Linked DNA regions of Homo sapiens. The protein of the gene in region 1 interacts with the protein of each later gene in a pairwise test. Each region holds a gene or a part of one and is shown on either strand. Other genes may lie near its edges. The genes, in order: ZDHHC5 and GOLGA7B.

Evidence for each region.
Region 2: the proteins of ZDHHC5 (region 1) and GOLGA7B interact in binary tests that used the Homo sapiens proteins (3 or more experiments, as listed by UniProt).

Annotation. Positions count from the first base shown.
Region 1 is NC_000011.10:57,668,718-57,680,742, forward strand, and holds part of ZDHHC5 (palmitoyltransferase ZDHHC5), read left to right. Parts: intron 1-3,303; 5' UTR 3,304-4,373; coding exon 4,374-4,477; intron 4,478-12,025. UniProt on the Homo sapiens protein: Palmitoyltransferase that catalyzes the addition of palmitate onto various protein substrates such as CTNND2, CD36, GSDMD, NLRP3, NOD1, NOD2, STAT3 and S1PR1 thus plays a role in various biological processes including cell adhesion, inflammation, fatty acid uptake, bacterial sensing or cardiac functions.
Region 2 is NC_000010.11:97,843,794-97,856,152, forward strand, and holds the start of GOLGA7B (golgin subfamily A member 7B), read left to right. Parts: upstream 1-6,049; 5' UTR 6,050-6,510; coding exon 6,511-6,522; intron 6,523-12,359.

The DNA.
Region 1 (12,025 bases):
TACCTGTTCTCTCTCACCCGTCCGCTTCCTCCTCCTACCGCCACCAGCCGAGTGCTCCATGCGTTTAGTACTTTGTACTTTTTAAAGTGGAGCCCGAATGCGTTTGTCAATATTTTACCTATATTTGGGGCAGGCAGGTGGAAAGTGTTTTACCCACTTGGCCAAATGAAACACTGAAATAAGAAGTAAGAAAGTTGCTAAAAGTTAGGAAGGCAGTTGTAGGATCACATATACGTTATACGCTAGACTATTTTTTGCCTTGGATTCTTCACTTCCTGGTTAATGCCATCTTGACCAAGTTGATCTAACATTTGCATATCATCCTTCTATCTCAGTATACCTCTGTCCTGGATCAAATATCTTCAGAATGCTCATTATCACCCATTGTATAAACTTAATGTTTACAAAATTATATTGCCATGTATTTTGCTACCTCGGTATATAATGATAACACCCACATTAAACTTCTTGGCTCTTTCTCCCATACCTTGACATGTGAATTATTCCATGGTACCTCCATTACTGTGCATTTAGATTTACTCTATTGTACTGTTACACCGCTTATTTCAACAAAAAATAGTTGTGTTGTCCTTGGTACTGCTGGTATCCACCTATTTAAGGAAATACCTGTATTAAACCTTATTAAAGCCTTCAAACCACATATCCTGTATTGTTTGTTTTACATATACATATTTCCATTTCATAGTTTACTCTGTGCCTCAATATGGCATACATATTACTTTTTTTCTCATTTTTGAGACGGAGTCTGGCTCTGTCGCCCAGGCTGGAGTGCAGTGGCTGCTATCTTGGCTCACTGCAACTTCCACCTCCCGGGTTCAAGCGATTCTCGTGTCTCAGCCTCCCTAGTAGCTGGGATTTCAGGCATGCCCCATCACGCCCTGCTCATTTGTTTGTATTTTTAGTAGAGACAGGGTTTTGGTATGTTGGCCAGGCTGGTCTCGAACTCCTGACCTCAAATGATCCGCCCGCCTCGGCCTCCCAAAGTGCTGGGATTACAGGCGTGAGCCCCCGTGCCCAGCTGGCATACATATTCTTGTATACTTTTTTGATACTAGTATGGATTCAAACTGTTGACTCTGATGAACCATACTCACCCTTGTGGTTTCATCCTAGTATCTGCAGCACATTCTTTTGCTAAGAATTGGTTCATCTTTATTTATACCCAATAAATTGTTAGGTTTTTGATTTCCCTTCTACTGTGTAGCCCCCAAGCATCTCAGATGCTGTTCTCTTTTGTGTTCCCAGTATTATACTCCCAAAATTGCATGGCCTTTCATGACTCTGTATTACTATGTCAATATTAGTCCATGTGACTTTTTTCCTGTGGAAAATATATGAAACAATATATAGTATCTAAATGATATTCTACTCTAGATAAAATTTAAGTAGTATAATTTTCCATCTTTTCTAGTCTTTGGGATTTTGAGGGAAAAGTTTGCTTTAATAGTACATATTGGCTGGGCAGAGTGTCTCACACCTGTAATCCCAGCACTTTGGGTGAGGAGGCAGATCACCTGGAGGTCAGGAGTTCGAGACCAGCCTGGGCAACATGGTGAAACCCCATCTCTACTAAAAATACAAAATTAGCTGGGTGTGGTGGTGCCCTCCTGTAATCCCAGCTGCTCGGGAGGCTGAGACAGGAGAATTGCTTGAATCCGGGACTCGGAGGTTGCAGTGAGCTGAGATCACACCATGCACTTCAGCCTGGGTGACAGAGGGAAACTGTGTTTCAAAAAAAAAAAAAAAGTACATATTGTCTACAAATCAAGAGTTTGCTTTTGTTAACAAAGTTACTGAGGCCTACATTCCAAATGTTAGGCTTCCATTCCTGTAGGAAACTGAGAGTTAAATAATCATTAAATCAGGGACTAGAGAGGATTTATGTTTTCTAGGACTATAACAGTTTCTTAGAATCTTTTGGCGCTCACTGTATTCTAATACTGCTGTTTGGCCCTCTGAAACCCTAATTTTAAAGAGAGAAATGAATCGTAAGGGAAGGCACCTTTGCCTTCCATGCCATAGGTGAGAGAGGAAGTGGTACATTATAGGGCACATTTATATTTTGTTATCTGAATCTTCTGATTTTTTTTTTTTTTTTTTTGAGACAGAGTCTTGCTCTGTTGCCCAGGCTGTAGTGCAGTGGCTCACTGCAACCTCCGCCTCCTGGGTTCAAGTGATTCTCCTGCCTCAGCCTCCTGAGTAGCTGGGACTACAGGCGCCCGCCCGGCTAATTTTTGTATTTTTAGTAGAGAAGGGAATAAAACTACTTTCTTTTAAAATTCTAACTTAAAATTTTTGGCTTGCAGATTCCAAGTTATCATCTCTGGGCAGGTAGTGGATGAAAAGGTAGAAAGGGTTTGTGTCACCAGAGGGGCATGTGACCTCTTGAGTTCTGAACCTGAGGTGATTCAGTGGAATGTCCTCGGGCATTCTGTAGCCTTCAATTTTAAAGAGTGGGATAAGGGACTGCGTCACCAGATAATGTGAGTAAAGTGCTTTTAGATCACCAGATGAAAAGCATTTTATAAAATCCCAAGGTGCTGGTGTTAGTTTGTTATTGTCATCAACAGAAATAATTGTTACTTTTAATCATATTGGGGCAGGTGGGGCTCAGTTACCTTAGGCCAATATAGGAATAATAAACTGTTGAATTGGGAAAAAAGAACCAACCCTATGCTATGCTTATTCAGTTTCTCATAGAGGGCATCATGGCTTTCTCTGCAAGAACATTTCTTACCCAGTGTTCTAATGGGTGATTCCAAAAGACCAAAAATTCAGCTTCTACCTCTTCAGGATTGTAACTAAAAAGCATAGAGGAGCAAAAGAAACACACAGAGAAAGAAAATGAGACTTGCTTTCCTAATTTTGAGGTTAATTTTTTTCTTTTTTCACTATAACAATAAACACTCTTCTTGTCCAAAGAGAAATCTTTGTTCTAGGACTGCCCTTCACTGCTGTGCCCTTGTTTGTGATTTTGATATTCTTGGTATTTGTTACTACCATCTATGTCAGGTGAGATGGGCCCCTTACAAGAGCTAGTCCTTTGATGTCCTTTGGCCAGGTGAAGCCATGTTCTGCTTCCAATCTGAACAGAGCAAAGGATTCTCAAGTCAGTTTTCCTCTGAATTCAGAGTCCCTTCTTACCCACATACATGTAAGTGAAATGGAAAACAGTCTTTCTTTCAGAAAGTACTTTTTAACAGCAGCCTGTGGAATTTTAGCCTTGGTGTCTAAGAAATACCCTGAAAGAATTCTCTGATAAAGATACTTGTTTTTCTCCAGGTGAGACACAGTAACCTGGTTGAACTCTGCATCTGGAAAGCTGAAGACTGAAGAAAGATAAGAGACATTGACTAGTCTGGAAACAGGGACATCTTTGGAACTTCGTTTTCATCCACAGTAAACTTTTGAAGTGTCATCAATTGGAATTGATTTCTTCATCTTATTCTGCCTATTGGGAAGAACATGGCTTCAAGGATTTTAAGTTTCCCTTTAGTTTTACATGAACTTTGTAGGAAACAGAGCCCTTAAAGGGCTTGGGAATAACAAGAAGAGATTGAAGACAGAGAAGCTTGCCCTGTTTTCCTTGCCCCTTCAAAGAAAAGGATTTACAGCTCAAACTTAGAACAGCTGTTGTCCAGCTTTAGCCATCAAGAGAGAAATAAATTAAACCACCATTGCCAGACTACAAGCCCTGGTGAAGTCAGGGTGTGGGAGTGGTGGCATTGAGAAGACTACCTAAAAGAGACAAAGACTGCAGTAAACAAAGCTCCTCTTTAAAGTTGGAAGGGGCCTCAGGTTCCTTCTTGGATTGAAATAGAAATAGAAACACAGGGCACACCTCTTTTAGGTGCAGCTCACATTTTATGGAACTGTAGTCGTGGAGGTACTATAGTATCTCAGAAGAATTTTTCTTTGCCCAAAGTTTTTTTGCCATACCCTGATATTCTCTCCTTCTTTTGAAGACCTGCCTCCATCCATGAGCTGTATCTTGATCTGTCTGACTGTCCATGTTTTCCACCTGCAACCATTTGCATGTGTACAGCCTACTGTTTGTCTCCAGTTTTTAAACTGTACAAGTTGTGTTTCTTAATCTTCCCTTCTGCCTTGTTCTGGGGAGGTGGTTATTCATCATTTGGAATCACCTTTCCCCCTCCCATGTGCTTTCCTTCATTTGAGATCTTTTGACCTTTGGCTTTATTTGGGAGGGGGAAGGGTGATAAAGTTTTCTGTTTCCCTGGTTTTCTTTTGTACTCCTCTCTGTTGCTTCCCTCCTCCCATTTTCTTGTCTGTTCTGCCGCTGTGTGGGCCTGGGCTATGCGGCAGGGCAGATTTCCCATCAGAGCTCCAACATGCCCGCAGAGTCTGGAAAGAGATTCAAACCCAGCAAGTATGTCCCGGTCTCTGCAGCCGCCATCTTCCTAGTGGGAGCTACGACACTCTTCTTTGCCTTTACGTGAGTTTTCTCCCAGCAGGGGTGTTTGGGTGGGTGGATACTCCATGGGAAGTGAGGAGATAACGCTTTCTCTTGAGTTTTGCAAAGCCAAGTGACTGAGAGGGCTCAGCGTCTGGTACAGGTAAATCCAAATCCCAGAGACATGTAAGAAAAATGAGAAAAAGCCTGTCCTTTCAGTCGTGTTATCAGTTTTACTTCGCTGAATCTTCTACCTACCCTTTCCTCCTTTATTTTGGAATCATAGATGTCTTCATATTTTTCTACCCAGCTCCATCATTAGATGATCCTAAGCTAGGAAGGAAGTGGGAGGAAACCACCAGAGAGGCTTAAAGCAGTTTAAGCAGTCAATTCTATGAGAAAGAGAACTAGACTAGACTAAAGGCTTTTTTTTGGAGGCAGCGTCTCTTGCTCTGTCACTCAGGCTGGAGTGCAATGTCGCGGTCTCGGCTCACTGCAACGTCCGCCTCCCAAGTTCAAGCGATTCTCCTGCCTCAGGCTCCTTAGTAGCTAGGATTAAAAGTGCCAACCACCACACCTGGCTAATTTTTTTTATTTTCAGTAGAGATGGGGTTTCACCATATTGGCCAGGCTGGTCTCAAACTCCTGAACTCAAGTGATCCATCCACCTTGGCCTCCCAAAGTGCTGGGATTACAGGTGTGAGCCACCATGCTGGGCCGACTAAAGCCTTTTTAAATGCTAATGGCTTTTTTCCAGGATGTCTGAAACTTAGGTTTGAGATTGTGGAAACTGAGAGTATTGGAAAATTTCAGAATTGATTTATAAGATACACCAATGAGAGAGTTTTGGCTTTTAGTGCTACCCAGATGGTTTTCTTTGTACTCTTAAGAACAGAAGCCTGGAGAAGTGAAGGCCACTGAGAAAGGAAAGGGTAAGTTGTATTTGGGAAGAGAGTCCTAAAAGAGTCCCTTTATGTTAGTTTCTGCCGAGGGAATGACAGTAATTTTCCCATTACTTGGTTCTGTTGGGAAAAGCAGTTGGTATGAAAAAATTTCCCATTTAGGATCTAGGATCTGCATCATTCTCACTTTGATCTTCAGACTTTCTTCATTTACTTGTTATTGGAAGAGACTGAGTGATTTAAACCTTCCCTTTTTCCTCAGTTTTTTTTTTTTTTTTATTAAGCTCTTGACCATCTGGAAGGCATCCTTGCTGTTACCTGTTTATAAATTAACATGTACCAGGCTTCTGAGCCTTATACTGTTGAGTCATTGATTTAGTGCTCTAGTTGCAGCTCTTGGAATCATCAGAGCATGCTGGATCTTCTGGGAAGTTACTTTGTCATGGTTCAGGCTCAAACCTAGTTGTGAAGTGTTATTCAGAGCAACATGAGGTTGCTGGAAAGAGGAAGAAGTGAATTGAAGTGGTAGGGAATAAAAACACTTGGGCTCATTGAAGTAGAGATTATTGGGGTGGAGGCAATTATACACAAGTTAAATCTGAGGTAGGAGGGAAGGAAAACTCCCCATATTTAGCTTTAGAAGCCAAAAGATATTCTGAAAAATGTGGGTCACATTGTCTAAAGAGTCAGCAAAGTAATACTGATGTATTTCTCTAGTTTTTAAAGAAGGAGAGAAAGAATCACTATCTAAGGCATGAACACCATCCTACTTCTCACCTCCTCTGAAGCAGAGAAGTTGTAGATTTTTTGGCCCCCAGCTCTGAGCTTGAGCATACCTGCTGGAGTCTCTCAAGGATCTAGAGACAGTGCTGCTTTTCTCTGACTTAATATTTTCTTCATAACCTTTTCCTCTTGCTTAAACTCAACATGTTCAGTGCTCTGTCCTTCTTCATACATTTACTACCAGAAAGAGGGGTGAGTCTTTGGTGTCAGAACTTGTTTTGGTTTTTGCTAATATGGCCAGGAAGTAGAATCAAAATTTTAACTAAGGGACATTTATATTATATCTTAGTATCCTGTAGCAATTTTGGTTCTGGGTCAAGAGGGGTATGTACAAGACCAGTTTGACACCCTTAACTCTGCTCAATTGGGGAGGGTCTATTTTCCTTTAAGAGGCAAAGCCTTTGGAGAAGGAAATTGAGGGGACTAAATGATTTCTGTCTTTCAAGCTCCCTCTTCTTGAGATAGAGCAAGCTGAATCCTTGTTTTTAATTTGCTAATCTGGAACCATTGAAGTGTTTGACTGGTTATACCAGTTTGCCTACAAAGAGTTGTCCTGACATAGGCATTTTCTCAACTGATAGTTGAAGCTGTTTAACCTACTTTCTCATTCCCTGGTGCCAGTAAAGTAGGAGCCCTCCTTATTCCATGGTCTCTTAGCTCTAGGAAAAAGGATTTTGGAGGACAATATTGACCTTATTTGGAATTATTGCCTCTCATCCAAAGTTAGAAGAACCCTAAGTCATAGCTGGAGTTCCTTCCCCCTGGCGCTAGTTTCCACAGGACCAATTTCTGGGCTCCATCTTTTCCTAAGCATCTCCCCTAGTCACCTTGTGGGGGCACAAACACACTGTTTATCTTACTCTAGCACCTAGCTCGGGTAATTCTGAAATTCTCATCTCCTCTTCTCCATCTGACTAGAGTATTTCCTCTGTAAGCATATATCTGGGCTGAGGCACCACTGTTCTTAAAAACTATCCTCTCATGTATTTTACCTCTTTCGAGGTTCAGTTCCCTGGAGAATCCCCTGTTTAAAACCATACAACCTAAAAAAGAGTTCAGGGTTTCAAATGGAGAGGCAAGAGGAAAACTCTCTGAACTAGCTCCTATGTGGGGCTGTAAATCTGTAACTACTCTATCATCCTCCTATTCTCTTCACTAGGCTACAACTAGCTACATTATTAGAAGCCCCAGGTGAGAATTACTTTGGGATATAGAGGAATGCGAGTAGGAGGGAGAGTCCCTTTCAGGTAACAGACATAATTAGTGGAGGCATGTAGACTTCAACTAGTTAGGAACAATTTACCTTCCATGTTTCTTTGTTAAGTTGGGGAAAGCTATGAGCAGAAATTACTAGTTGAGTTTGCATCAAAGAAATAGTGATCTGCCCCAGAGAATCTTGAACAGAACAGTTCAGGCCTTCCTCCTGGAACTCTAATCCCTCTCATTCCCTGAATTTGTCCAGCACTAAAACTAAGGAATGGTGGGGATCCTGTCTTAATTCTTCTCTGTTTTCACTATTTGGGAGGGAGAGTGTCTGCTGAAGTAACCTTCTACCTCCCAGTTAGTTACTAGACTTCATTTAGGATAACTACTTGGATGCTTATCTATCTTAGTTTAATCTTGTTTTTTGACTGGCAGAGGGGCAGTCCTAGGTAAGTGGGATAAGCCCTCTTTGGGGGAGGTCAGGAGATTGATTCTGGTGAAGTCTGTTAACCTTTGTGGACCTAAGTTCTTCCTGTTTACAGTGAGAACGTTGACCTACAGCAGTTTGTTTAAGCAACATGACCCTTTTTCAAATGAAATCTTATATACAAAAAAAAAAACCAACATAAAAATTAGGGCTGCTCTGGTTCAAGTGAGGCTGGCATATAGAGGCCCAGCCCCTTGGTATCGCCTCTTTACCGTGTAGGATCTCCTGAGACCTAGTGCTCCTGGTAACACCATTTCGAATCACTTTGAATTGTATCTTGTTTAAAGTCTCATCAAACTGTGAATTAGTCCAGTTAAGGTCTTATTTTATCCATTTCTAAAGCTGGTGGGAGGGGGCAGGATAAGATCTCTGCTTCACGTGATTTTTTTTTTTTTTTTTTTTTTTTTTTTTTGAGATGGAGTCTTACTCTGTCGCCCAGGCTGGAGTGCAGTGGCGCGATCTCGGCTCGCTGCAAGCTCTGCCTCCTGGGTTCATGCCATTCTCCTGCCTCAGCCTCCCGAGTAGCTGGGACTACAGGCACCCACCACTACACCCGGCTAATTTTTTGTATTTTTAGTAGAGAAGGGGTTTCACCGTGTTAGCCAGGATGGTCGTGATCTCCTGGCCTCGTGATCTGCCCGCCTCAGCCTCCCAAAGTGCTGGGATTACAGGCGTGAGCCACCACGCCCAGCCCCTATTTTATCCATTTCTAAAGCTGGTGGGGAGGGGGCAGGATAAGATCTCTGCTTCACGTGATTTTTTTTTTTTTTTTTTTTTGAGATGGAGTCTTACTCTGTTGCCCAGGCTGGAGTGTGGTGGTGTGATCTCGGCTCACTGCAACCTCTGCCTCCTGGGTTCAAGCGATTCTCCTGCCTCAACCTCCTGAGTAGCTGGAATTACAGGCGCCTGCCACTAAGCCCAGCTAATTTTTGTATTTTTAGTAGAGTTGGGGTTTCACCATAATGGCCAGGCTGGCCTCAAACTCCTGACTTCAGGTGATCCACCCACCTCGGCCTCTCAAAGTCCTGGGATTACAGTCGTGAGCCACCGCACCTGGCCACTTCACGTGATCTAAGGGAAGGATAAAGTCAGAGTTGTATGGAAATCCATGATGGTCTTTTCAGGCTCCCATCCATTATATAGTTTGCGGCTTTTCAGTTTCTGCCTCAGTCCTCTTCCAACCCTTTTACCCACAGGAAGTTGGCCGACCTCCATGGAGTTCTCTCTGGTCCCCCCTCCCCCGTAACTGCAGAGGTATTAGCACCTGATTTGAGTGGGAGCAGCCTTGTGATTTAGCACATTAATGGAGCAGTGGTTGTGCCTTTTCCTTCTCACATTGTTTTCTTATCCAGGAATAAGTGCCCAGGTCCTACGTCTCACATTCAGCTGGTTGAAAGTCTGGGTACCACAAATCAGGTGTTTTCAGAGAAACTGGGTTGCCCACCTGTAAAGGGAGAAATTGTTTTCTCATGGAATCTTGAGGAAAGGATTTCTAAATGAGGATCCCCATGGGCAGGAAGTGGAACATTCATTTCAGCCTTCTCTCATCAACAAGGAACACTAGTCATATGCTCAAGCAATATGCTAGGCATGGGCAGAATGCATAGACCTATTCTTTAGGAGCTTAGTGTCTCTGTTTTAAGTGTCCTTGAATTCCTAGTATTTCAGATAGGGGAAGGTAGAGGTGGAATAATTGATGATGATGATAATGATGGTGATAGTTAATAATGTTTTCTTTTGTCTTCTGTCCACTGAATGCTCAGTATCAAGCCAGCTAGTTTAAAAAGAATTCTAGCACTTTGGGAGGCTGAGACAGGCAGATCAGGAGGTCAGGAGATCGAGACCATCCTGGCTAACACGGTGAAACCCGTTCTCTACTAAAAATACAAAAAAATTAGCCAGGCGTGGTGGTGGGCGCCTGTAGTCCCAGCTACTCGGGAGGCTGAGGCAGGAAAATGGTGTGAACCCGGGAGGCGGAGCTTGCAGTGAGCCGAGATCGCGTCACTGCACTCCAGCCTGGGTGACAGAGCAAAACTCTGTCTCAAAAAAAAAAAAAAAAAAAATTCTAGCGGCTGGGAGCAGTGGCTCACACCTGTAATCCTAGTACTTTGGGAGGCTGAGGCGGGAGGATCGCTGAGCCCAGGAGTTCGAGACCAGCCTGGCCAACATAGTGAGACCTGTCTCTACAAAAAATAAGCAAAGTCAGCTGGTCATGGTGGCATGCACCTGTAGTCCCAGCTACTTGGGAGGGTAAGGCTGAAGGGTTGCTTGAATCTGGGAGGCAATTTTAGTGAGCCAAGCATGGGTGACAGAGCGAGACCCTGTCTCAAAAAAAATGAATTCTAATAACTTTTGAATGAAGATCTTTCTCCTTCATTCTCATGTTTGTACTATGTAGCTGAAGTAACAAGGTTGGAGAGTTTCATGTGGATTACCTAAGGCCTTGCATAGAGAAGTATTAATTGAGGCAGGATTAAAATCCAAAGATTCTTGACTCCTACTTTGTGTTTCTTTCTAAGAACTTAACCATTTTTTTGTAACAGGATGCATTAGGGAGTGCTCTGAAACAGGGTTTCAGGAGTGTGGATATTGGAATCCATTCTCCCAATTTTATTTATTTTTATTTTTTATTTTATTTTGTATATATATTTTGAGACGGAGTTTGGCTTTTACGCCCAGGCTGTCGTGAAGTGGCGCGATCTTGGCTCACTGCAACCTCTGCCCCCCGGGTTCAAGTGATTCTCTTGCCTCAGCCTCCCGAGTAGCTGGGATTACTGGTGCCCACCACCACGCCCGGATAATTTTTGTATTTTTAGTAGAGACAGAGTTTCACCATGTTGGCCAGGCTGGTCTCGAACTCCTGACCTCAGGTGATCCACTTACCTTGGTGTCCCAGAGTGCTAGGGTTACAGGCGTGAGCCACCATACCTGGCCCCACTCTGCCAATTTTATTTGGTCTTGAAAACAGGAGTGCTGAATGGATGGGCAGAAGAACCCGTTCTACCTGAGATGGTATAGGTCTGGTAGTCCTGTCAATGAGTCAGCCAGCCTTCTGGGCTGTGACCACTCCCTAGGCTTTTAGAGCTTTATGATTATTGCCATAGTCTAAGGACGAGCCCCAACATCTCCTGTTCTGAGCTCTGGCCTCATCTTCCATCAAAGGCAACAGATTCAGACAGGCCACTTGGGGTGGTCACCTAGGAATCTGGCAAAGTACCATAGCAACGGAAAGCCTCTCCTTAAATCAAGCAGAATTTGGGATATGGCAAGAACGGGCTCTGCTCACACATGCCTCTCCTTGGTGGGGTGTTCCCTTATAGTGCTGATTGGAAGCAATGGTTCTGTGAATCTAGGAGCAAATATTGTCCATGAAGTTGTTATTTGCATCATTTCTAGATTCTGGCACTGTGGGGGCAGACTTTATTTTGGCAACAGATACTGGAATTCCATTCCAGGATTACACACTTTATCTGGACCAAGTTGATATCCAGAAGGTTGTAGGGTAAAGTTCATCATCCAGGGATAGGTTGGCAGGATCCCCAAGAAACTGAGTTGCTTTGCCTAAAAATGAAACTGGCTGGGCATGGTGGCTCATGTCTGTAATCCCAGCACTTTGGGAGGCTGAGGCGGGCAAATCGCTTTGAGCTCAAGAGTTGAGTCCAGCCTGGGCAACATGGTGAAACCCTGTCTCTACAAAAAATTAGCCGGGCGTGGTGGTGTGCATCTGTAGTCCCAGCTACCCAGGAGGCTGGGGTGGGAGGATCACTGGAGCTCAGGAGTTTGAGGCTGCAGTGAGCTGTGATCTTGCCACTACACTCCAGCCTGGGCAAGAGAGCGAGACCCTGTCTCAAAAAACAAAACTGAAGAAAGAGTCGAGTCAGAAAGATTGACATGGGCCTGCAGGAGGTTTCATATCTTGTTCTTACTCTCATTAGTTTCTCTCAGAGATGGAAACTAAGGTGAATATTTCTTTCAGAAGCTCAAGAGGCCACAGTGGCCAGTTGTAGGAATGAGACTTTTAAATCATGGGCACCTCAGTGTTCTAAGGATTTAATTTCTTTTTCCCTTCTAATTATCTTCCCAGGCTGTAGGAGTCAAGTGAGTCACCCTTTCTCTTCTTCCCCAGGCGGAAATTGAAGTGACAACTTAGTACTAGGGAGGGGCTCTGACCTGGATGACTGGTTTTCAGTTTCTCTCCCTCCTTCTTAAGGAACC
Region 2 (12,359 bases), on another chromosome or scaffold:
CCATCTGTGGCCATTTACTGTGTTTTTTTTTATTGTTATACTTTAAGTTTTAGGGTACATGTGCACAATGTGCAGGTTAGTGACATATGTATACATGTGACATGCTGGTGCGCTGTACCCACTAACTCGTCATCTAGCATTAGGTATATCTCCCAATGCTATCCCTCCCCCCTCCCCCCACCCCACAACAATCCCCAGAGTGTGATGTTCCCCTTCCTGTGTTCATGTGTTCTCATTGTTCAATTCCCACCTATGAGTGAGAATATGCGGTGTTTGGTTTTTTGTTCTTGTGATAGTTTACTGAGAATGATAATTTCCAATTTCATCCATGTCCCTACAAAGGACATGAACTCATCATTTTTTATGGCTGCATAGTATTCCATGGTGTATATGTGCCACATTTTCTTAATCCAGTCCACTGTGTTTCTTTCGCCTCTGTGGGAAATTGTCTGTGCTCCTCTCCTGAGCCATCCCCTCTCTGTTTGCCCTGTGTCCCATTCTCTGCTGGCCTGTTAAGGGCTTGCTCCTGCAATTAACCCTCTCTTTTCTGAATCATCAGTGTTTCCCTCTCTACTAGATGATTCCTGTCAGCAGACAAACATGCCCTAATGTCTTCCCTCTTGAAAGGAAACTCCCTTGCTTCCATGTCTCTCTCAGACCCCCATGCTAGTCTTTGCTTCCCTTTGCAGGAGAAAGAATTGTCTACACTCTCAGTACCTCTCCTCTCTCTCCTCCATGCTAACTCTCAAACCCACTTTAATCAGGATCTTATCCCTGCACCACTAAAATGGCTCTTGTCAAGGTCACTGGCGAACCTTCTTGCTGCCAAGTCCAGTAGTCATTCCTCAGTCCTCATCTTATTCCACCTGTGAGCAGCATTCAACATGGCAGGCAAGGCTCTCTTTCCAGCCTTCTTTGCTTGGCTCCAGGACACCGCCCTCTCTTGAATCTCCTCCTACTTCACTGGCCCCTCTTCTCAGTCTTTTGTCTTCCAGCCTGTCAGTGACCAAGTGTCCTGAATCAGTTCTTGGACAGCTTTTCTAGCTATGCCTACTCGCTCGATGATGTCTCTAGTCCCATGGTTTTAAATGCTATCCACATACTGAAGGGTCCTGAAGTTATATCTCCAACTCCTCATCCTCCCTTATAATTTGCTTATAACATGCACATCAAACTTCAAACCTAAGTGAACAAAACACAACCAAAATGCTGTGTTCTCTATCCCTTCAGGCCTGCTCAGTCCCTAGTCTTCCCCTCTCAGTAGATGGCCACTCCTTTCTTCTGATGGCTCAGATCTCAAGACTTAGACTCATCTTTGACGATCTCTTATTTATTTATTTATTTTGAGACAGAGTCTTTCTCTGTCCAGGCTGGAGTGTAGTGGCACAATCTCGGCTCACTGCAACCTCCACGTCCTGGGTTCAAGTGATTCTCCTCCCTCAGTCTCCTGAGTAGCTGGGTCTACAGGTGTGTGCCACCATGCCTGGCTAATTTTTGTATTTTTAGTAGAGTCAGGGTTTTGCCATGTTGGTCAGGCTGGTCTTGAACACCTGATCTCATCTCAAGTGATCCACCTGCCTTGGCCTCCCGAAGTGCTGGGATTACAGACATGAGCCACCATGCCCGGCCTGCCTTCTTTATACCACACATCCAATCCATCAGAAGATCCTCTCAGCATTACTTTCAAATTATATCTAGAATCTAGCCACTTTTTCCCACCTCTACTGCTACTACCAAATTCTAAGCCACCACCACATCTTCTAAGCCTGGGCTGCTCTAACAGTCTCCTAATTGGTTTTGCAGCTTCTAGCCTTGCCTCCCCTCTGACATCCAGTGGAATCTTTCAAAAACTGCAATTAGATGATGTCACACCCCTACGCTAAACCTTCTTAGGCTTGCCATCTTACTTTATGAGTAGAATCTGAAGTCTTTATCAGGGCCTACAAAACCCTGGAAGACCTGATTCCTGCTACCTCTCTGAGCTCAACTCCCAACTCTCTTCCCCTTGTTCACCTCAGGTCTAGCTACACTGGTCTTCCAGCTATTCTTTGTTTTTATTATTATTATTTTTGGGGACGGAGTCTCACACTGTCACCCAGGATGGAGTGCAGTGGTGTAATCTCGGCTCACTGCAACCTCCGCCTACCAGGTTCAAGTGATTTTCCAGCTTCACCCTCCCAAGTAGCTGGGATTACAGGCAGCCACCACCATACCTGGCTAATTTTTGTATTTTTAGTAGAGATGGGCTTTTGCCATGTTGGCCAGTCTGTTCTTGAACTCCTGTCCTCAAGTGATCCACCTGCCTTGGACTCCCAAAGTGCTGGGATATAGGTGTGAGCCACTGCGCCCAGCCTCCTGCTATTCTTTGAACATACCAAGCCCAGTCCTGCGTCAGGGCCCTTGGATTCTGTCCTCTCTGCCTTGTCACTCTTCCTCCAGGTATCTATATGTCTAGTTCTCTCTCTTCCTTCAGGGCTCTACCCAAATTTCACCTTATCAAAAAAAGTATTCCCTGACTATTCTTTCGAAAATAAGCCCTCTCTATCACTATCTCCTTACCATATCTTCTTCCTAGCAGTGATCACACTTTTCTTCCTAGCAGTGATCAAAACTTGACATATTTTACACATATTTGCTTATGTCATGGATTGTTACCCCCATTACTATATAAGTTCAATAAGGACAGAGGCTTTGCATTTTTAGTCACGACTGTATCCCAATTTCCTAGAAGAGTGCCTGATACACAGTAGGTGTTCAACAAATAGATGTTGATGAATGGATTTGTTGAATGGCCTCATCCAGATATCTAGTCATCAGGTGAAGAGAATGGTTTCCAGAAGGTTGTCTAATTGATGTGATAAAAATCAAGTGGGAGGAACTGTGAAATTTACATGGAGATCATCAGATTATGTGTTCTTTTATTACCAGTGACCACTGCAGGATTCATAGATATTCTGTTTGGTCCTTTATGCCAAATCCTATGCCAAACTATAAGGTAGAATGAGACACCCGCCTTTAACTTCTTTAGCATGTCACTTACACTCTGGGACTCAGCGTTTTCATCTGCAAAATAGGCAGCTGGAGATGTGGTCATTGCTCTGCTAGTCTATGGTCTACCAGATGCTGGAGGGAGGCAATACAGTTAGGAGGATCAACCACACAGGCTCTGGAGCTTGACTGCCCATGTCTGAATCCTGTCTCCATTCCCCACAAACCCTATGACCTTGGGCAACTTACTCAGTTCCCTCATTTATAAAGTGGGAATAATAAAAAGATCACAAGAACACAACTCAAAGAGTAATTGTGAGGATTACGTAAGATCATACATGTAAAGTGTGTAGCATATGGGCTGGCACATGGTAAGTGCTCACTAAATGTTAGCTACTAAAAATGAAAAGTTCTGGGAAAATTTTTGAGGGGTCATCGCTATTAATGTGTTTTAGGGGTGACAAACTGTTCTAGAATATTAGATAATATGGGCATTTTAAAAGCATGATAATTGGCTGGGTGCGGTGGCTCATGCCTGTAATCCTGGCATTTTGGGAGACTGAGGTGGGCGGATCACCTGAGCTCAGGAGTTTGAGACCAGCCTGGCCAACATGGTGAAACCCTGTCTCTACTTAAAATACAAAAATTAGCTGGGTATGGTGGTGCGTGCCTGTAATCCCAGCTACTTGGGAGGCTGAAAATCACTTGAACCCAGGAGGCAGAGGTTGTAGTGAGCTGAGATGGTGCCACTGCATTCCAGCCTGGGTGATAGAGCAAGACCCTATCTCAATAAAATAAAATAAAATAAAGCATGAGAATGGTGTTGTGCCTAGTTGGGATAACGCTTTTCTTCTTGGGAGATGCATGGTGAATTGAAGTACTTACAGATAAAATCTCATTGAAGTACTTACAGATAAAACCTCACGATGTCTGTCACCTTATTATTATTATTATTATTATTATTTTTGAGACGGAGTCTCGCTCTGTCACCCAGGCTGGAGTGCAGTGGCGCAATCTCGGCTCACTGCAAGCTCTGCCTCCTGGGTTCATGCCATTCTCCTGCCTCAGCCTCCCCAGTAGCTGGGGAGTAGCTCCCCAGGTGCCCACCACCACGCCCGGCTAATTTTTCTGTATTTTTTAGTGGAGACGGGGTTTCACCGTATTAGCCAGGATGGTCTCAATCTCCTGACCTCATGATCCGCCCACCTCGGCCTCCCAAAGTACTGGGATTACAGGCGTGAGCCACCGCGCCCGGCCACGATATCTGTCACCTTCTGATAATCTAGGCAAATATAGCTCTGTTTTCATATCTATCAATAAAGCAAATGTGGCAAAAAGCAATTGTTGGAGCTAGGTAGATGGCATAGTTTATTGTACTATTCTTTCAACATTTTGGTATGTTTAAAAATGTCAAAATAAAAGGTTGGAGAAAAAACAAAAGGTCCTAGAAACAGTCTAGTGAAATCCAACACTCACATTTTACAGAAAGAGAACCATAAGCTCAGAAAACAAGACAGTTGCTCGAGGTTATACAGCTGGAAAAGCCTGGGCCAGGTCTCTTGGCCGCCAGGTTCTCCCTGTGTGTGGGCTTCAGACTCTCAGGCAGCAGTGAGCTGCAGAGGAGCACACCCCACCACCCCTCAAAGAGACCAAGGGGTATTATGGGTATGTAAAAAGGCACTTGTGTTGGTGTTTCCTTTTTTTTATGTCTATTTTATTTATTTATTTATTTATTTATTTTTTGAGACAGAGTTTCGCTCTTGTCGCCCAGGCTGGAGTGCAATGGTGTGATCTCAGTTCACTGTAACCTTTGCCTCCCGGGTTCAAGCAATTCTCCTGCTTCAGCCTCCTGAGTACCTGGGACTACAGGCGGGTGCCACCATGCCTGGCTAATTTTTTTTTGTATTTTTGGTGGAGATGGGGTTTCAGCATGTTGGCCAGGCTGGTCTTGAACTTCTGCCCTCAGGTGATCCACCCGTCTCGGCCTCCCAAAGTGCTGGGATTACAGGTATGAGCCACTGCTTCCGGCCTTATTTTTATTTTTTTAAGAGACAGGCTCTTGCTCTATTGCCCAGGCTGGAGTACAGTGGCACAATCATGGCTAGCTGCAGCCTTGAACTCTTGGATTCAAGTGATTCTCCTGCCTTAGCCTTCTGAGTAGCTGGGACCACAGGCACACATCACAACGCCCGGCTAATGTTTTCATTTTTTGTGCAGACAGGGTCTTGCCCAGGCTGGTCTTGAACTCCTGGGCTCAAGCAATCCTCCCACCTCAGCCTCCCAAAGTGTTGGGATTACAGGTGTGAGCCACTGCACCTGGTCTCCTTTTTATTAAACAAATAGATCATTTAGTTGGAATTTATGATGTCAAAAGTGCGAAGGTGGCACCAGAGCCAGACCTGCCATCCTTGGAGAGTGAGCATACCGGTTTGGCACCATCTGCTTGTGGTTTTTGAGTGGTGGTGGTAGTGGTGGTGCGTGTATGTAAACTCGGGTTGCAGAGGAGAGAGGGAAGAGTAAAGGGTGGGGACCAGGTCCAGGAAGAGCAGCAAGGAGAGACTGGCTTCAATTCTGGAGCTGCCTGAAAGAAGGGACCCCAGGCTATGGCTGAGAACGAAATGTGGGCACGTATTTAAAGAAAGGAAATGATTCTCTGCGGTCGGCAGGATCTTTGTCTAGCTAGTGGGGTTCCAGGAAGTGCAAAGGAGAGGGGAAAAGAGGGGCCGTCCGTGCAAGCCTGACTGTGTGTATATGGGGGGGGGGCACACAGAGAGGAAAAGGGAGAGAAAGAAAAGAAATTATTCTAAAGAGGAAGCTGGGGGCGGGGCGAGGGAGGGGTAGAGCCGGGGCACTGGGGGTGGCTGGAAAGGTAGAGAGGCCTCACCTGCGGGCCTGCGAGCGGCTCGGGAGCGGTCAGCCTTGCAGGCTGAAGCGTCTTGCCCCGGAAAAATTCCTGCCCCACTGTCCTTCAGGCTGGATGTCCCGGGGGCCACGGAAGCGAGCGCAGAGCTCCGGGGCTCTCACGAGGGGGAGGGCAGGAAGGGGAGGCGGGGCCTCGCGCGGGGCGGTAGCCGAGCCTGTGGCCCGGGCGGGGCTCCTCTCCGGCGGCGCCGGAGTCTGGGGGCCGCGGCTTCCCCCTCCCGGCCAGCGGCGGCTCCTGGCCCCTCCTCCCCCGGCCGCCCCCATCCCCGCCGCCGCCGCCGCCAAAGCTAAACCCGGCCGTTGCCTGCAGGAGCCGCGGCAGCGGGCGATCGGGCCGTGAGGAGCCTCGGGCGCGGCCTCGCCTCCCGGGCCCGGCGCCTGCCTCAGCACAGCGGACAGCGCCGCGCCCCTTGCCTGGACCCAGCCGCCCGCCCGCCCCCGGCCCACCTGAGCCCGGGCCCGCGGCGCCCGCATCAGCACTGCGGACAGCGCCCCGGGCCCCAGCTCGCCGCCACCGCCGCCGCCCACCTGCTCCCGGGGTCAGCACCGCGGAGACCCCCCTCGCCCGGCCCCGCGACAGCCTCCGAGCGCCCCCGGATCATGGCCACCGAGGTAGGGGCGAGCGCCCCACCCGCAGGCAGTGCCCGATTGCCGCGGGACCAAATGCCCTAGGGGTGGGCTGGGCAGGAGTGGGAGGCGGGAGTTGGGGGTGGGATGGGGTGATTCCCCAGGTCAGGTCTGGAGGGAGGAGGTAGGGGCTTAGTGAGGGCTCATCTCCCCCTTGCGTGTCAATCTTCCCCTCGCCCCACCTGAGCCCCCAAGCTGTCCGCGACACTTGTTGGCATTAGCGCCAGGGTTGCTTCAGGGCCCCAGGCTGGGGTTTCCCCTTCCCTGGACTTCACAAGTCCTGAAACCGCTTTCCTAGAGGGTTGGAGACGCGTGTGTGTGCGTGTGTGAGGGGAGGGAAGGCGGCTGTCCGCTGTTGCTATGCAGTCAGCTTCTGAACCCAAAAGCTTGGCTAAGGGATGACAGACTTACCTCTACATCCGCATTTCCTTTGCGGGAGGGAGGGGACAAAGACATCCTCAGGCTGAGAACCCAAATGGTTGGTCTCCACTTTTGCATATCACCCTTCTTGCTTTTTTACCCCATTCGAGTTTTTTTTTTTTTTTTGTCCCAGGGTGTCCAGATTTCCCCTCCATCTGATGGGAGTTTCTGCCTTCTTCAAGGTGCACTGATAGGTGTGTCACCTTCAAGCACTTGAAGGCTGAACCACGGGGCCTGTTAGCTAAGGGCAGAATCTTGGTATAATGCTTGAGGTCGAGGATTCCCCCCTCTACCCCTAGGGATTGCCCTTTCCCCCCTCATTTCAGGAGGGAGATTGGGCTCTTTATGTTCCCACTTTATACATGATAAAGGTGATGTGTGGAAAACGAAAGGACTAATTTGCTACTCCACACAGCATGTCAGCAGCAGAGCGGAAAGTTTTTGCCTTTGAATTTTTGGAGCGAAACTCAGGACATCAGGGTCTCCCCAGTTCTGATGTTGACTTCCTTTGTGGTGTCTCCCCATTTCCAATCCAGCTGGCATACACTGGGGGAGAGCAGAGGCCTGTGAATGATTCAATGCAGTGCTTCTGGGCATCCTGGTGAGCAGTGTGACATTAATACCAAGTGTGGCTGTTGTTATTCCACTCAAGTTTCCACCACAGAACAAGGTGCTGTTGCTTGGCATTGCTTGGCATTCTGACAAGGCACAAGGTTAGCTAGGCGGAGAGTTGCCCCTCAGGACTTGGTGTGAGGGCAAGCCCTGGGCAGACCCTGGGAGCTTGGTTTCTAGAGTAGAGGAATGCAGAGTACTCACAAAGCACCAAAGACATGGAGGACAGCAGGAAGAACAAAGGGAGAAACCAAGGAGTTGGTTACCTTCCAGATAGGGCTGCCAGACTGCAGCAGAGGCTGCTGTGTTGGACAGAAAAGGGGAACTTCAGCTACATGGGCATGGCTGGGCCAGCAGCGTGGGCAGAGAAGGCAGCTGCCTCTGCGATGTGATCTGACAGATTCCAACAGGCCCATCTGTCCCAGGATGTCTGCCATGGCCCACAGATTCCAACCAGCAGGCTTCTATCTCTATGTCAAGACAGCGTTTCCAGGAGGCTGCTATGAGACATGTGTGACTCTCCCCTGGGAGGGGCTCTGCTCATAACGCCTCTGAAAATATTGCGCTTTCCTGTGTACAAAGCACTATCGCATAAGTGATCTCTTTCAAGCCTCAGAGCAGCCCTATGAAGTGGGTAAGGATGGTGTTATTATGCCCAATTAACAGATGAGACAACTAAGGTTCAGAAACTTGCCTGGTCCCTGTGAAGGAGCCAAAGAAGGCATCATTATCCCATTTTACAGATGATGGAACTGAAGTGCTGAGACTTATTCAGGAAAATATGGCTAAAAGGTGGCAGGGATGGGATAAGAACTTGAGTCTTCTGCCTCTTTGGCCAGTGCTTTTTTTTCCTGCATCCAATTAGCCTATTGTGTCACCTGATAGAGAGGAGGGCCCTCCAGGTCTTGATGTGAAGCTTTGGTGGAGAGAGGGATGCAAAGGAAGTCATGAAGGGCTGGAGTGTGGGGACTCAGGCCCCCTGCTTGGCCTGGCTGGGTTGGTTTGAGGGCAGAGGGACAGAGGAAAGTCCCGGAGTGATGGGGAGCTGAGGACAAACATTCCTCACTTCACAATTTGGCCTTGGGTGGACTCTGATGGCAGAACTGAGGCAGGAAGCCTTAGCTCTGCCAGGGCACAGGACCTGCACGTATTCTGGGTTGTGGGGTGAGTCATTCTCCCAAGGCTGTTTTTACTGTTAGAATTGAGTTGAGATTACCAGGATAAACTTGTTGGGAGAGGGAAAACATCGCTTTAAGTTCCCATGATTATTCTGTTAGGATTCTCAATAGGAACTCCTCAGCTCTAGGAGAAGCTGTATTGAGAGAAGGAGAGAGGGAGAGGAAGGGGGTGGGGAGAGGGACAGAGAGGGAGGGGTGAGGGAGAGGGAAGAAATTCATGGGTGGAAACTGGGTCTTTTCTGTTCCCTAATTTCTGTTTAGGAGTTAGCATTAGGGGAGAGGTGTCTGTAAGGAACTCAGAGGAGGGATGGAGCCTCCTGAGTGATACACTGACCTCATTTGGAGAGCTGCAATGAGCCCATTTTCTGAGCAGCAAACCTCTGTGAATGTGTGTCACTGGGAGCAGGGTCTGCCCTGGGAAATAGTCCAGATGGCCAAGGACAACTGGGAAGTGCCTGGCTGGGAGGGGCTTCTCCAAGTGGTGGGGTTTGGTCTCTAAGAGATTTTTAAATGCATCCAAGTAGCGTTATTCAAGCAGGGTGTTTGGAGGTTTGATCTTTGAGGCATGGAATTAATGATGAGTAGACAACTGGGTCAGGCTTGAGCACTGGTACAGGCTGAGAAGAAGGGAGGTCTTGTGGCTGGTGTTTTATCCTTAGGCCTGACCTGGCTGTCTGTGACTCATGATCCTCACTCCTCCTTCACACCCCAGCCAGGAAGCAGAGTGCTGGCATCAGCGGAACCTCCTAATTCTCGATGCCTCACATGCATCCTATGGAATGAGATGGTTTTTAATGAGGATGAAGATGGCGCCAGGGGGGCACTCCTGTTGGACTTGGGCAGACTGGACCAGGAGCTCATTTGCACTCTAGAGCTTGTTCCTCTGCACCCCAGCTAGTTGACTGTCAGGTGAACAGGAGCCAAATGTGTGACCTGTGGTACCCACTCTCCAGGCAGACTCCCCCTCCTTCTCATACTGCAGTTTGAAAATTGGTACCCATGGGTCTCACCACTGATTTTCTTCCTTATGAAATGCTTCTCGGCCCTGTCTTCACTCTGCTGCCAGTGAGCCAGGGGTGGCAATGGGAGAGAGGGGCAGGGTTGAGGAAGGTGAGAAGTGGAGAGAGGCTCAGGTCTCTGGGTCAGTTAAGAACCCCCTGGGAGACACCCAGGGGAAACACAGAAACTGCAGCTTCAGAGAGAGTTGTGCACATATTTTGATATCCTCTGGTAGGATTTCAGAGCATCACGGATCTCTGCTGAAAACCCCACCAGCTTTCTGAAAACTTAGTAGCTGGCCAGTGGCCTGGAGCCTGGCTTAGCTCTTGCCCAAGGGGCCCCAGCCATGGGATTCTTTATTTAGAGGTCTTAAACTAGCAGCTCTAGAAATGAGTCTGGTCCATGGGTGTGCCTTACTTAGTCTGTTGAGTGCTTATACATTTTAAAAATGTATTGGAAATATTCAAAAATCAGAATATTTGATGTTAAAAAGATCTAGATTTCTGGCTTCTTTTGAGACACCAGAAGTGCTGGCAACCTGGGTATACATTCCCACGTGGCAATAGTCATCTGTCTCCTTGAGATGGGGCACCAGTTTTCTAATTAGCCCCAGGCCCCACCTGGCCCACTTATTGCTCAGCCCCTGTAAACATTTGCATTCATAATCCCTGATAAAGCCTCTAGAATGTCAGAGATGAAAGGGGCTTGAGCAATGATGTAGTTCCAGTTTCTTAGTTTCCAGTTGAAGAAATGGAGGTGCAGAGAAGGGAAGACTTTCCCAGGGCCATGTGGCCCAGGGTCAGGTCTCCTGCCCCCAGGTCAGTGGGCCATCTTTCCACTAGGGCTTCCTGGCACTTCACACTCAAGCCACCATGAATGGAGAAAACCAGGAGACCCTGCCTTGCCTTAAATCCGGCTCTTCACCAACTTCAGATGAGTCTGTAATATATGTACTCTATGTAGGTCTGGGAGACTAAGGCTCTGCCATATAAAATGTGTCTGATATCATCCTTTAGCAACTCCTCAGAGTTGCTCCTCCACAAACACTCTCCAGGGAGAGAAGCAGATCTCTGGTCACCCAGAGCCTGGATAGTAGTCTAAGGCTCAGGATATTGTTGGTGCTGAAAAGGGTGTTGACTTATCCTACTCTGGCTACTTGAGAACCTGTGGATCAAAGCCAAGAGGAAATGGGAATTTATTATGTAAGGTAGCACCCCCAAATCTTAATGTATTAATAGCTTAATACAATAGAAGTTTGTATCCTGCTCAGTGAAGTTCCAGGTAAGTGTTCCTGATCAACAGGTATTCCAGGCGGTGATTCAAGGCAGTGATTCAGTGATTCAGGGACCAAGGCTCTTCCCAACTTGTGGTGTCACTATCTTCAACACAGGGCTCCACCAGCCTCCATGAAAGGGGAAAGAGCAGGGAGAAATGGTACATCTTTATGAATCAAGCCTACACATGGCATTCGTCACTTCCTCTCACATTCTACTCAGTCATAGGGACACACCTAACTGCAAGGGAGGCTGGGAATTAATATAGCTGTATGCCTAGGAGGAAGAAGAAATGGCTTGGGTCAGTAGCTAGCCAGTCGCTAGAGACACACGCCTTCAGGACAGCACACAAATATGTGTGTACACATGTGTGCATTCAGGCACAGATTTAACACAATCCCTATCAAATTAGCAACATCGTTTTTCACAGTATTGGAAAAAACAATGCTAAAAAAAGAAAAAACAATGCTAAAGTTCACATGGAACCAAAAGAGAACCTGAATAGCCAAAGCAATCCTATGCAAAGAACAAATCCAGAGGCATCACATTGCCTGACGTCAAATTATACTACAAGGCTATAGTAACCAAAACAGCAGGTTTTGTATGGGTCAGAGGACAGGAAGCTGAGTCCATATCAGAATGGTTTCTTCCCTTTCTTTCCATTCTCACCACTGCTTTTCTCACCACCTCTTTAGTTTTTTCCATGGACTATTAGAAAGAGAATCATCCCTCCAACTGGCCCCTCACCCCAGTCTTGTCCACTTCCCACAAAACTGCTAGAATGAGCCTTCTAGGGGTAGGGGAGTCCATCCTCAAGATTGACTGACTTTCATAAGTTGGTTTTAGAGGGGCAGAGGAAGGCCATAGCCTTGTTCTTTACTCTTGAAAATACAACATTATAAAACCTTAACCAGAGCAGACATGTTAACAATTAACTTATTTATATTACCAAAGCATTCCTTATTTCTCCGAGTTATCATAGGTTCCTAGTAGATATCAAGGGGATTTCCTCAATGAAAACCTTGATTAGAGGAATCAACTCATATAAGCCTACAGGAGGGCTTATACATTATTTAATCCAGTCACAATACTTTGAGATCACATTTCGTACATACAGCAAGGTCCACCTGGATTTAGGAAAGTCACATATAGTGTTTTTGGATTCCCACCTTTTCAGGACCTTGATCTACCAATTATCTGCTCCTTCTACTTTATTGATAACCTTTCCTAGTTATTTATTATTTCCCAAGATTTTTGTTTGTTTTTAAATTTTATTTTATTTTAGATTCAGGGAGTACATGTGCATGTTTGTTACATGGGTATATTGCATATTGGTGGA